2 separate regions of the Homo sapiens genome follow, and region 1 is linked to region 2. Evidence: fine-mapped expression QTL. A gene starts in region 2. The other region holds a variant in brackets. All regions are shown on one strand. Distances are between the middles of the regions.

The links. PIP is the estimated chance that this variant, and not a neighbour inherited with it, causes the effect.
Region 1: its variant is fine-mapped to the expression of DOK7 in whole blood (TOPMed, PIP above 0.99).

Annotation. Positions count from the first base shown.
Region 1 is chr4:3,483,714-3,489,065 of GRCh38, forward strand. It overlaps DOK7 (docking protein 7), which reads left to right. Exons shown (of 7, transcript NM_173660.5): 5 at 1,826-1,945. LOC105374355 (vegetative cell wall protein gp1-like) reads right to left here and starts at 1,124. Exons shown (of 3, transcript XR_007057994.1): 1 at 732-1,124. RefSeq lists enhancers at 675-1,874, 1,876-2,842. The variant G/A (reference allele first, on the strand shown) is at 2,384.
Region 2 is chr4:3,460,956-3,466,307 of GRCh38, forward strand. It overlaps DOK7 (docking protein 7), which reads left to right and starts at 2,351. Exons shown (of 7, transcript NM_173660.5): 1 at 2,351-2,474; 2 at 2,551-2,596. The coding sequence starts at 2,421. RefSeq lists enhancers at 1,129-1,976, 4,894-5,352.

The DNA.
Region 1 (5,352 bases), 23 kb after region 2:
GATTAGAGAGCCTGGCCTTTCGTGAGAGCTGGGGCTGTGCCGGCTGAGCCCTTCACAGGGAGGGGTGGACCACGGGGACAGGGAGCGACTGCCTGGCACTGAGTGAGCCAGCCAGCAGACAGCATGACGGCCTTCTCCTTGCCTGCCCCCAGGGCCTGGTGCAGGCTCTCTTCTGCCCACCCTACCCAGCTTGGGGGCCCCACCCCATCACGGCCCTCATGAGCCTCTCGGGGCATCCTCCTGGATGGCATCGCAGCGGGCATTGGCCTCCCCTCCATGCCCACCTCCAATTCTGATCAGGAGCACCCCTCACCCACAGTAGGACTGGAAGCTCTATCGGGCCAGAAGGTGCACAGGGGGCCAGGGGACTTGGACTTGAGTCCACCTCGTGGCTGTGTGATGGTGGACAGGTGGCGTGCCTTCTCTGGGCCTCAGTGTCCTTTTTGCTAAAGTAGGAATGGCGCTGTCCCATGACCCGGTTTGGGGACACTACGTGGAAGGAAGCATCCACAGCACAAGGTGCCGCTCGCCCTCGTGTGCCCGGGGTGGCTGCCAAGGGGCCGGCAGCGTCGCCACGTGTCGGGGCTGGCCTGAGTTCCGTGTCCCTGGAATCTACAGCCTGTGTTCCGTGAAGGCAGAGCATGACTGGGCAGCAGGCAGCGGGGGTTCTAATGCCGAGATTTCCCTTCCCCCCAACTCCTGCCCACCCCGGCGCCTTCCCTCCTGCGTACCTTTCTTTGGGCAATGGGCAGAGGCCCCGGAGCGGGCGGGATTCCTGTGAGGTGACGCCAGCCGGAGTGTCCAGCCGGGTGCAGCCAGCCCAGTGGCCCATTCACGCGGCCGCCAGGGCTTCATTCACCCCTGGCCGGGAGGGCAGCGCCCCCGTGACTCGCAGCTGGGGCTTCTCCACGGGTGGCGGCTGCATCGCTCTGCCAGTGACGCTGGGCTGGTCCCTGGGGGCCCTCCTGCTGCTGTGGGGGTGCAGGGGTGGATGCTGGCCCCAGGATGCTGCACACGGCCTCAGGGCAGCACCCACACACTGGCAGCTCCAGCTTCCCCTGAAAGATGACCGAGGAGGTGGGGAGGACGCGGTGCTGGCCAGCAGTGACGGCTGCAGCATGTGTGGGCAGGTGCCGTGCCACACCTTTTACAAACATCTGAATGCAGCCCTCCCAACAGCCCGGGGGAAGGAAGTGTGGTCACATGGCAGCCTTCCTGGGATGTGACCCCAGCTCCAGGTGGCACAGCTCCCTTCTCCTGTGGCCTTGGAGCCCTGAGGGGACCCTACTTGATGTCTCTGGGGTCTCCTGGCTGCTTCATTTGCCCTCAAGACGGCTGTGGGGGCAGGGTCGCTGGGACCTTGGGGCAGAGGAGGGACTGATCAAGTGCCTGCTGGGTGGCAGAGCAGCCACATCCCCCCATCCCCCCAAGCAAGCCCGGAAGGCAGGTATGTGGGCGGGGGCACCCATCTGTCCAGGGCAGGGCACCCCCTCCCTCCTCCCCATGCCCTGTCGGCTGCAGGACCTAGGATGGGCGGGGCAGCACTCACCCCAGCGCCCAAGTTTGAAGGGTGCGGCGGGGTCCCTGGGGAGTCCAGAGGCTCTGGGGACCCAGCTTCACAGAGCCAGGTGGGGTGTCGGCTCTGGGCACCCGGATTCACGGGGCCAGGCGGGGTGTCGGCTCTGGGCATCTGACTTCGTGGGGCCAGGCAGGGTGTCATTGTCGGCTCTTGGTGGAGTTTGCTGCGGTTTCCTGTGTTCCTCCTCTTCAGGGTCCCCAGCCCGCCCTCGGGCCAGACTGACCTGTCTCTGTCCTTCCTCTGCAGGGGCTGGCGTCTTCTTCCTGTCCTCGGCCGAGGGGGAGCAGATCAGCTTCCTGTTCGACTGCATCGTCCGAGGCATCTCCCCCACCAAGGGCCCCTTTGGGCTGCGGCCGGTTCTACCAGGTGCGTGTGGGAGCCTGGCCGGCCGGGGAGGGTGCGCTCGGCAGGCTGTGCGACGTCCCGGGGCGGGGGGCCACAGTGATTTGTCAGCCCCAGTTAGATGGCCAGCCTCCCCACCCCCAGCTAAGGAACCAGAACCTTTCCAGGCCAGGATTGCAGCCTGGGCTTCTGCAAGCCCTGCTGAGGGATTCAGAGCAGCGGGGGCTGGGCTCGTACCTGCAGGTGCTCTCCCTCGGGGGTCCGAGCTGTTGGAACGCTTGGCCCTAGAGCTTTCTGGCTGGGACAGTCAGCCACAGCTGCCACTGTGCAGTAAGAGACCCTCTGACCCACCACCACCATCTTCCACGCCCAGGAGCAGGGAAGGCCTTGCCCGAGCTCGGTGGCCCGGGGGCAGCTGGTCTGACTCTGCAGCTGGGGTCGGGACTGGCTCTGCCTGAGCCC[G/A]GTGTTTAGGCCCAAGGCCACCTCGGGAGGTCCCCTGGCTGTGGGGTCTCAGGACACGTTGGGCTGAGGGGGTCTCGTCTTGTCTCACCCACACTTCCTTGGCTGTGGCTGCGGCACTCTCTGCAGGAGTCCTTGGCCAGGGATGTTGCTGGACCCCAGAGGGGCTCTGGTGCCTGGGCACGGTGGGGCTCCCCAGGTCGGGGCGGGTGCTGGGCCAGGTGCCTCCATGGGCTCTCTCAAATGCTCCTCTTGCTCCACGAGGGCAGCGCTTGACCCAACGTCCAAGTGAGGCCAAGGCCTAGGCCATGTGGCGGGTGAGCAGCAAGCTCACATGTGGCGCCTCCTGGCACTGGCACCCCCGCCGTGGTGTGGCGGGGAAGGGTGACTGGGAGGGCAGAGGCGAGCAGCATGTGGGGTGGGACCTGGGCCTCCCTTCTCCTGGCCACAGCCCCCAATGCCCCCTGCCCACACCAGCAAAGTCCCGTTGGGGGCAGCCCTGGGAGTGGGGAGGTGGCACCTATGGCCAGCGCCCTCCCCGCTGCCCTGCCATGCTGGATGGTGCAGCTGCACCCCTGTAGGTGTCTTCCTGCCTAGTGGATGCACCCCTGCAGGTGTCTTCCTGCCTAGTGGATGCACCCCTGCAGGTGTCTTCCTGCCTAGCGGCTGCAGGCAGGTGTGGATGGTGTGGTCAGCGTGGATGATGTGGTCGGTGTGTTTGGCTGTGCAAGGCGAGGGTGTGCAGAGTGCAGGGCGGGGACAGGGCCGGGCAGGGGCAGCAGGAGGCTGAGCAGGGCTCCCTGCTCTCTCCTGCTCCCCTCAGGCAGTTCCCGGGGAGCAGAGGGAAGCAGGGAAGCAGTACTGGGCAGAGGATGCCAGGGAGGGTTTGCCTGGGACAGCCACTAGATGGGACAGGCTCCACCGCAGGCAGCACGTGGGCCAGCCCCAGGCGGGGCCATTGCTGACAGCTGGAGGGGGTTGGGCTGACCAGAAGTCCCAGACCCCACTCCACAGGACATCTTTGTCAGAGTCAGCTGGGAGCTCTCAGAAAGCTCTGTTGTCAGGGCCTCGGCCTGCAGCTGTGCCCCCAAGCTGTGCCTCTGCAGGTGTGTGGGGGCCTCAGGCCACCCGGAGGTGGGTTGAGCTGGGACACTATGCTGGGCAGCACCCCACCAGAGAAGCCGTGGGCCCAGCCCCCGCAGGCTGGACTTACTGGAGGGTCTGGGCTGATGGGTTCGTCTGCCTGTGCTGGCAGCACACTGGAGCCCCGTGATCACAGGACTCCCACAATAGAGCCCTGCGGGCGGCATCCTCAAGCTCTGGGCTTTCTGCCGTCCTCCTGTGCTGAGCCCGCTGTGACCCACTGGAGGGGCCAAGAGATGCAGGAAGTCCAGCCCCTTGGTCTTCCGCATGTGGACACCGAGTCCCAGAGGCAGCCAGACCCACCAGGAGCAGGAGGGAAGGGCTCAGAGGTCTGGGGTCCACCATGCTCCGAGTATGGCGTGCATGTTACCTTCTTGGCCTGGCCTCCACGGGGGTGCACCGTTGCTGCACCCCATTTTGCAGACGAGGGTGAGAGGCTCAGGGGGCGTGTGGTGGAGCTGGGAGTCGATCCGTGTCTTGCTGGCCCACCAGTTACTGGACGGGAAATGGTGGGAGGTTGTGTCCTGCATCCTGACCCTGGTGTCACCGAGGGGCCACTCTCCGTCCCACCTGTGGGGCATTGGCTTTGAGGGTGGCCCTGGTCGGAATGTCCCAGGGCTGAGGGGCAGTTGTGCTGTCCTGTCACTGTGCTTGTCTTCAGCCTGGACCCTCAGTGCACCAAGGAGCCAGGACTGGTGCCTGCTGTCCTGCCCACGTGGCTGAATGTGTCTGTGAAAGTGCCAGGAGCTGCTAAGCCGTGTGGCCTGTGGGCTCCATGGCCACCAGCAGGCCGTGTCGGGAGGGACTGATGCCTGAGCTGGCACAGCCTTGGCTGCCATCGCCTTCCACCCTCCCAGGCACAGGCAGGGAGGGGACAGGAGAGAGGCTTGTGCCACCCCCATCCCTGTCCCCGGCAATGCTACAGACAGGGCCACAGGGTCTTGGGCTGGCAGGGCCCCAGGCTGACCGGGGCAGTGCCTTGGGGTGGCCATACCCAGAGGTGGGGGAGGCTCCTCCAGGCCCTTCTTGTGTTCCTGGGCCCGGTGCTGTGAGCTCTCACCTGCCCGTGGGGAGGGCCCTGTTCTGAGGTCCTGATGGGGTCTCCTGTAGTGAGCAAGGGCCCCAGCTGGGCACCTGTGTGGGCTGAAGGCATCAGCAGAGGACAGTGTCCTATCAGGGACAGGGCCTCTTCAGCCTAGATGTGAACCTGGACAGGGACACCATTGCTTTCTCTGTTTGTTTCTCCGGAGCGCTGACCATGGGGTCGGGACGTCTGGCTCCAGCCTCCGCCAGGCTGGGTTCTGTCCGCTGAGGCTCTGATCTAGGTGTCCCAGGCTGGGGACTGTACCTTCTGGTCCTCTGTGCGCTGCAGAATTTGGTGTAAACTTTTCATGCTGCCACTGCTCCTGGACTTTGGGGAGAGCAGGTCCTTGGACCTGTTTCGGCTCAGTCCTGCAGGTGCCCCCAAGGTGGGTGTCAGGAGGTGTGTTCTGGAGGCCCAGAGGAGGCCACTTGGAGCAGGACGGGGTCGGTTTGCTCTTGCGGGTGTGGCTGTGGCTTCCCTGCCAGGGAAACTCTTTGGGATGGCTGTGGCCGTGGGTGCTGTGGATGTGGAAGGGGCAGGGTCTTGAGCCCTGCTGTTTGGAGCAAGGTAGCCACTTGGCCCAGTGTTCACATCACTTAGTGCCTGGGACATCCCAGCATGGGCGGGGGCTTGGGGACCAGGGCAGTGATGCTGAGGCTCGCAGCAGCGGTGCTGAGGGGCCAGTGAGAGGTCCCACCCTGCCTGGGCAGGAAGGGGAGGTTTCCTGCCACTCAGTCGCAGAGGA
Region 2 (5,352 bases):
ATCACAGTATCAAGGTAGAAGAGGAAGCTGAGACCAGTAAGATCACATGGTGGCTGAAGGTGGTGTGGCTAGTCAGGGACAGGTCCCTTGGCCACAGAGCCACTGGCGGGTGGCAATGTGCCACGACCATGGGGTCTGGCAGAGATGGCAGTGTCCCTGGCCACAGTGTCCAGCAGCAGCATGGCAGCCGCAGCAGGGCTCTGTGGTCAGACAGGGGTGCTGCTGTGACCTGAGACTGTGGGCTCCTTTGAAGGTGGTGACCCTGCCCCTCGTGTGGAGCCCAGCTGTGCTGTGGGGCTGAGCTGTGGTGTCCTCCTCTTTCAGGATGTGGCTCTGTTTTCACTGCCTACCAGCTCTCCAGCCTTCCCCTTGGTTCTTGGAGACCTGATTTGCTTCCAATCAACCCCTTCCTACTCAGTGGCCAGCCTATTTCTCCATTTGCAACCAGCAACCCTGGCTATAACTTCTGGGGAAACTTCTGGCTATAACTTCTGAGGCACGGAGCGGGGCAGGAGCTTGCCCAGGGTCACAGCGCTCTCGGCCAGTCTGGGAGTGGCAGCCAGGCCACCTCCTCCTCCTGCAGGAAGCTTCCTCCACCTTTCAGCAGCCCTGGAGCCGCATGGAGCAGGGAAGGGAGTTGTCTACCCTCCGGCATCCTGTGTGTTCCAGGCTGTGTGGGAGCAGGTGCAGCTGCCAGGCATGGCAGGAGCCTGGGCCCGGGCCAGCACTCAGGAATGCAGCAGGGCCCTGCCTCTCCCTGTAGGGATAAGCAAGTGCCAGGCGCCCAGGGCAGCGGATGTGTCTGTGGCTACAGCCCCAACGGCCCCCGCCTCCGCACCGGCTGTCCTGGGCCAGCCCCTTGGGGGCCTGGGATGTGTGGGGAGCATGAATGGGGCTCTGTGACCCAGCAACTGTTCTGCGGAAGGCGGCTGGTGGCTGCACAGGTGACTGCGGGGGTGGGTGGGGGATGCAAAATTCTGCTTCCTGGGCCTGGTGTCCCCCGCCTTGCATGAGGCCCTGACAAGACATCACCGAAGCACCAAAGCCAACCCTTGTGGCCCACCGGAGACCTGTCTCTTGGATCACAGGGGCAGTGGGGAGGGGCGCCCAGGGCTCCCGATGCCTCTGAGCCCTGCTCTGAGGTCAGCCGATGTGGCTCAGTCCTGGCTGTGAGGCCTCACGCTGCCCTGATTCCATTTGCTCCTCAGTGCGAGGCAGACAGAGCCCAGCCTAGGGTCTGGATGGGATGAAATGAAGACGTCTCCTCCCTAACGGGACACTGTCTACCCCTTCCTTCTTCTCCCCCGAGAACCGTCAGCCCCGTGAGGATGGGGTCTAGGGTAGGGCATGTGGACGGAGCTTTGCTGTTTGTCCAGGTGCTTATCTTCTAGGGTGCCATCGCCCCTCCCCACTGCTGTTCCCGTATCTGCTGGGTGTCCCCAACCCCAGGGTGGTGGAGGCCGTCTCTCGGATGGGGCTGACACCCAAGGCACGGACCTGCCAGGTCCCCCAAAGCACATGGCCTCTCTGCAGAAGAACCTGGATGTGACATCTAATGCCCAGGCCAGAGCTTGGGGACAGCTGGACTGGAGCCACAGGGTCAAGGAGGGGGAGTCCAGAAGCGCAAAGTCCACCCAGCTGGGAGGGCTGCTGGCAGGTCCTTTACAAAGCAGGCAGCTCCTCTGCCCATCGGAGCCGGCTGGCCTAACCAGGGCCTGCTCTTGCCTGGGATGGGGGCAGAAGAGGTGGAGACCTGGGGCCCTGAGGCGGCACTGTGGGTCCTGGACCCGCCCACCTGCACTGGGGTCCCTGCAGGCTTTTAATGGGAACAGAAATGGAGGAAGAGACAGAGGCTGCCAGGGGCTCCCCGACCCCTACTGCCTGCCTGGGGAGGGGTCACCTCAGTGTGGGGGAAGCCTGGGGATGTGAGAGCATCCTAGGCCTGGGCTGCCTGTGGCCAGTCTGTTGTCCGGGTGTCTAGTGACCCCTGGGGTAGGGGCAGATGCCAGTCTGGGAAGCCGGATTGTTTGAAGACCAACTTTAAAGTTGGGAGCAGTGCCCAGAGCGGGGCCGATGTCTGCTAGGTGGTTGTCTCTGCTTTTTGAAAAAGAAGTCCCCGCCCGACCCCCGCCCCGCCAGGCGCTGGTCTGAGCGTCTGAGCCCAGATGGTGCGCTTGCTCCAGAGGGCGGGCGGCTCCAGTGGCCGCCGCGGGACGGTGGGGCCAGAGGGGCCCGTGGGGGTGGGGGAGCCGCCCGCAGGAGAAGGAGCCCCGCCCGCGCCGGCCCTGGAGTCGCCGGTGTCGCCGCCCTGCCCGCGGGCCCGCCCTCCTGGCCCAGCCCAGGGCCCTGCGAGCTATTTTGAAAGTGACCCTGGGCTGGGGCGCCGGGGCGAGCGCGGCGGCGCGGAACCATGACAGAAGATGACCGAGGCGGCGCTGGTGGAGGGCCAGGTCAAGCTGCGGGACGGCAAGAAGGTCGGGGCGCGTCGGGGGCGCGGGGGGGGGGGGCGCGGGCGCGGGCGGCGGCTCACGCTCCCCCCTGTCCCCGCAGTGGAAGAGTAGGTGGCTGGTGCTGCGGAAGCCGTCGCCCGTGGCAGGTGAGCGGGGCGGGCGGGGGACGGGGGGCGCGGGGGTAGCGACACGGGTTACCGAGGCCCGGGGCAGTAATGCCAGCTTGCCCAAAATCGCCGCCGCTGTCACCCCGCCGGGAAACCCGAGAGCCCCGTGCGGACCCGGACCCCCCGGCGCCCCTGGGAGCGCAGGTGGGGGCCCTGGACGGAAGAACCCTCTTTCCAGCAGGGCAGACTGAGGCCCGAGGGGCTGCCTGGTGGCCCTGTAGGCGGAGGGGACGCAGGCCCTGAGCCCCCCAGCAGAGCAGCAAGGGGCCCCCCAGAAGCAAAGCCCCACATACCTGAGGGTTGAGCTGTGCTTGTGGAAACGCTCAGAGCAGGGCCCCCGAACCCAGCCTCCAGGGGTGCTGCGTGGGTTAGCGCTGACCCTGGACCCCTCCCAGGCAGACGAGAGGCTGGGCTGCGGTAGGGCAGGGCAGAGTGACTGCCACATTGCTGGGGGAACAGTCCTCTGGGAGGAGGCAGGGGTCCCCCCCCAGTCCCCGCCCTGAGCCAGCACCCCAGCTTGGGGAGGGTCAGCATGGAGCCCCCAGGTCTGGCAGCCCAGGCCGCCTGCAGCGCTGGGCCTGTAGGGAGGGCTGAGCCGGGCCTGCAGCTGCTCCAGAGGACAGGTGCGGCAGAGCCGGCCAGGCCCGGGTCTGGGTGGGATGCTCGGCCTGTGTGCATGGGGGGCTGTACGCCAGGGGGCTGCCAGAGCACCCTCCAGGACGGGTGTCTGTGACTCCCAGGGAGGGTGTGGGGCAGGGATCCCTCCTGCGTCCCCTCTGCAGGGCCTCAGGTGGTCCTGGAGGAAAGCACTTCCTGCCTGCCTCCGCCTCCCCTTGCAGGGCCTGGACTGCACGCTGGTCACTTCTCCACTCAGCCCTCCGTGCCCAGACCTCCTGCCTGGAGCTGTGGGGGCACCGACAGAGCCTGGGAGGGCGTCTTTGTCCTCCGGGGCTGCAGGGGACCTGGTATAGGAAGGGATGGGGTCTGGGCAGAGTGAGAGGCCCTGCCAGGCTGGGGCGGATGACAGGCTTTAGTCAGCTGTGGCTGGGTCGGGGCCGTGGTGGGGCAGGTGATGCTTGGTGGATGGTGCTGGGCTGGAGCCGGTGCAGACCCTCCAGAGAGGCCGCATCCCAGGAAGGCACCCGGGACAGCAGCCCCCAAAGAGGAGTGTCGGGGGAGAAGTCTTTGTCCCTGTTGGAGGGATTTTCTTTCTGCATCAGACAGTCCCAGGAGGCAGGGCCTGCCAGCCTCAAGAGGGTGTGCTCCCCCGGCCGGTGAGTGCCTGAGTGGAGTGACAGGAGTTTGCAATGGGTCCCCCAGGTGGGACAATCTGTGAGTCTGTAGGTGAACATGGTGGCTCCCGAGCGTCTGCTGGGTTATCCCGTATCCTGCGCAGTTGAGATCTGCAGCCTTCTGGGGCTGGCGTGGGAGGTGATGTGGGGTAGTAGAAGGTGCCATGCCCCCTCTGGGTGGATGTTCATTCCAAGCCTTGAGGCCAGGTGTCCCTAGCACCCACTGACTCACTGGCCTGGGACCCATTGCTTTGGACACCTGCTTTCTGTGTTGGTCACTCCAGCAGCCCAGGGTTGAAACTGACACCCTGTGGGGTTGCCCAGAGGTCGGTCAGATGAGGGGATGGGACAGAGCGGAGTTCTCACGCCCACCTCCCCACCCTGACCAGGCCAGCCTGGCACCTCCTCTCCGCTCAGAGGCCCTGATGCCTCTTCCCCTGGCCCCTCATAAGCCTCCCTAGATGCTGCCCCCTTTGCCTTCACCCAGCTGCCTTCCCGCTCAGCGCTGGAGACCACCTCCCTTGTGGATGGGCCCGGCGTGGAGGGAGCAGGCCCCAGCCCTGGAGGAGCAGACAGCACAGACCCTGCGCTCCTGGTGTGAGGGAGAGAGGAAGGGTCCCGTCTGCTTCCTTGTAAGACAGGCAGGGTTCTTTTTGTTACCAGTGGTGATTTCCTTCTGGGAAGGGCCCCGATGTGCACCTTTTCCACTGGCACCTTTCTCCTCCTTGCGTTTTTCTCAATCGTGAGCACGTCTTTCTGTTATGACAAGGTTTAGCGAATGAAAGGGAAACCCTTTTATCAAAGGGCTGCTCAGCCACAGCGCCTGGCATGGCCAGTGGACGTCGGGCCGTCTGCCTCGGTGTGGGACTGCAGGGTGCCCTGCAGTGGGACCACGTTCCTCAATGTCTCCACCGCGTCCTCACTGCGGAATGCGTGTCTGCGTCCCCTCTCTGGGCAGGGCCCCGGGGGAGGAGGGTGGTCTGTGTCCAGTTGTGGCCCAGGACTCACTGCTGGTGGCCCTGCATGCCAGCGGCGCCTGGCCCAGCCCCTCTCTTCTTCCTCCCAGGTGCGGGGGCTGGGGGTGGTGAGGAAAGTGTTCTTGACATCCTGTGGAGAGTGTGGCCCCAGGCCAGACACTTGAGGGGGCCTGCTTCCCACAGGGGCTGCCCCTGGGGGCTTCATCCAGCTCAGAAAAGCCACCGGGAGGGCCCGAGTCCTGGAGCTGGCAGGGTCTTGGAGTCACCATGGTGGGGGGAAGCTGAAACTCAGAAACCCGAGGGATCTGGCCCAAGACATGGACTGCTGGGCAGAGCCCAGTTCCCCCCAGCCAGCCCAAACCTTGCCCCCCACAGCTGGCTGGAAGTTCCGCGCCTGCCCCCGGGCTGATGGCTGGGCCCTTGCTTAGTCTCCCCTATCCTTGCTCTCGGTGGGACTGAGCCCGGC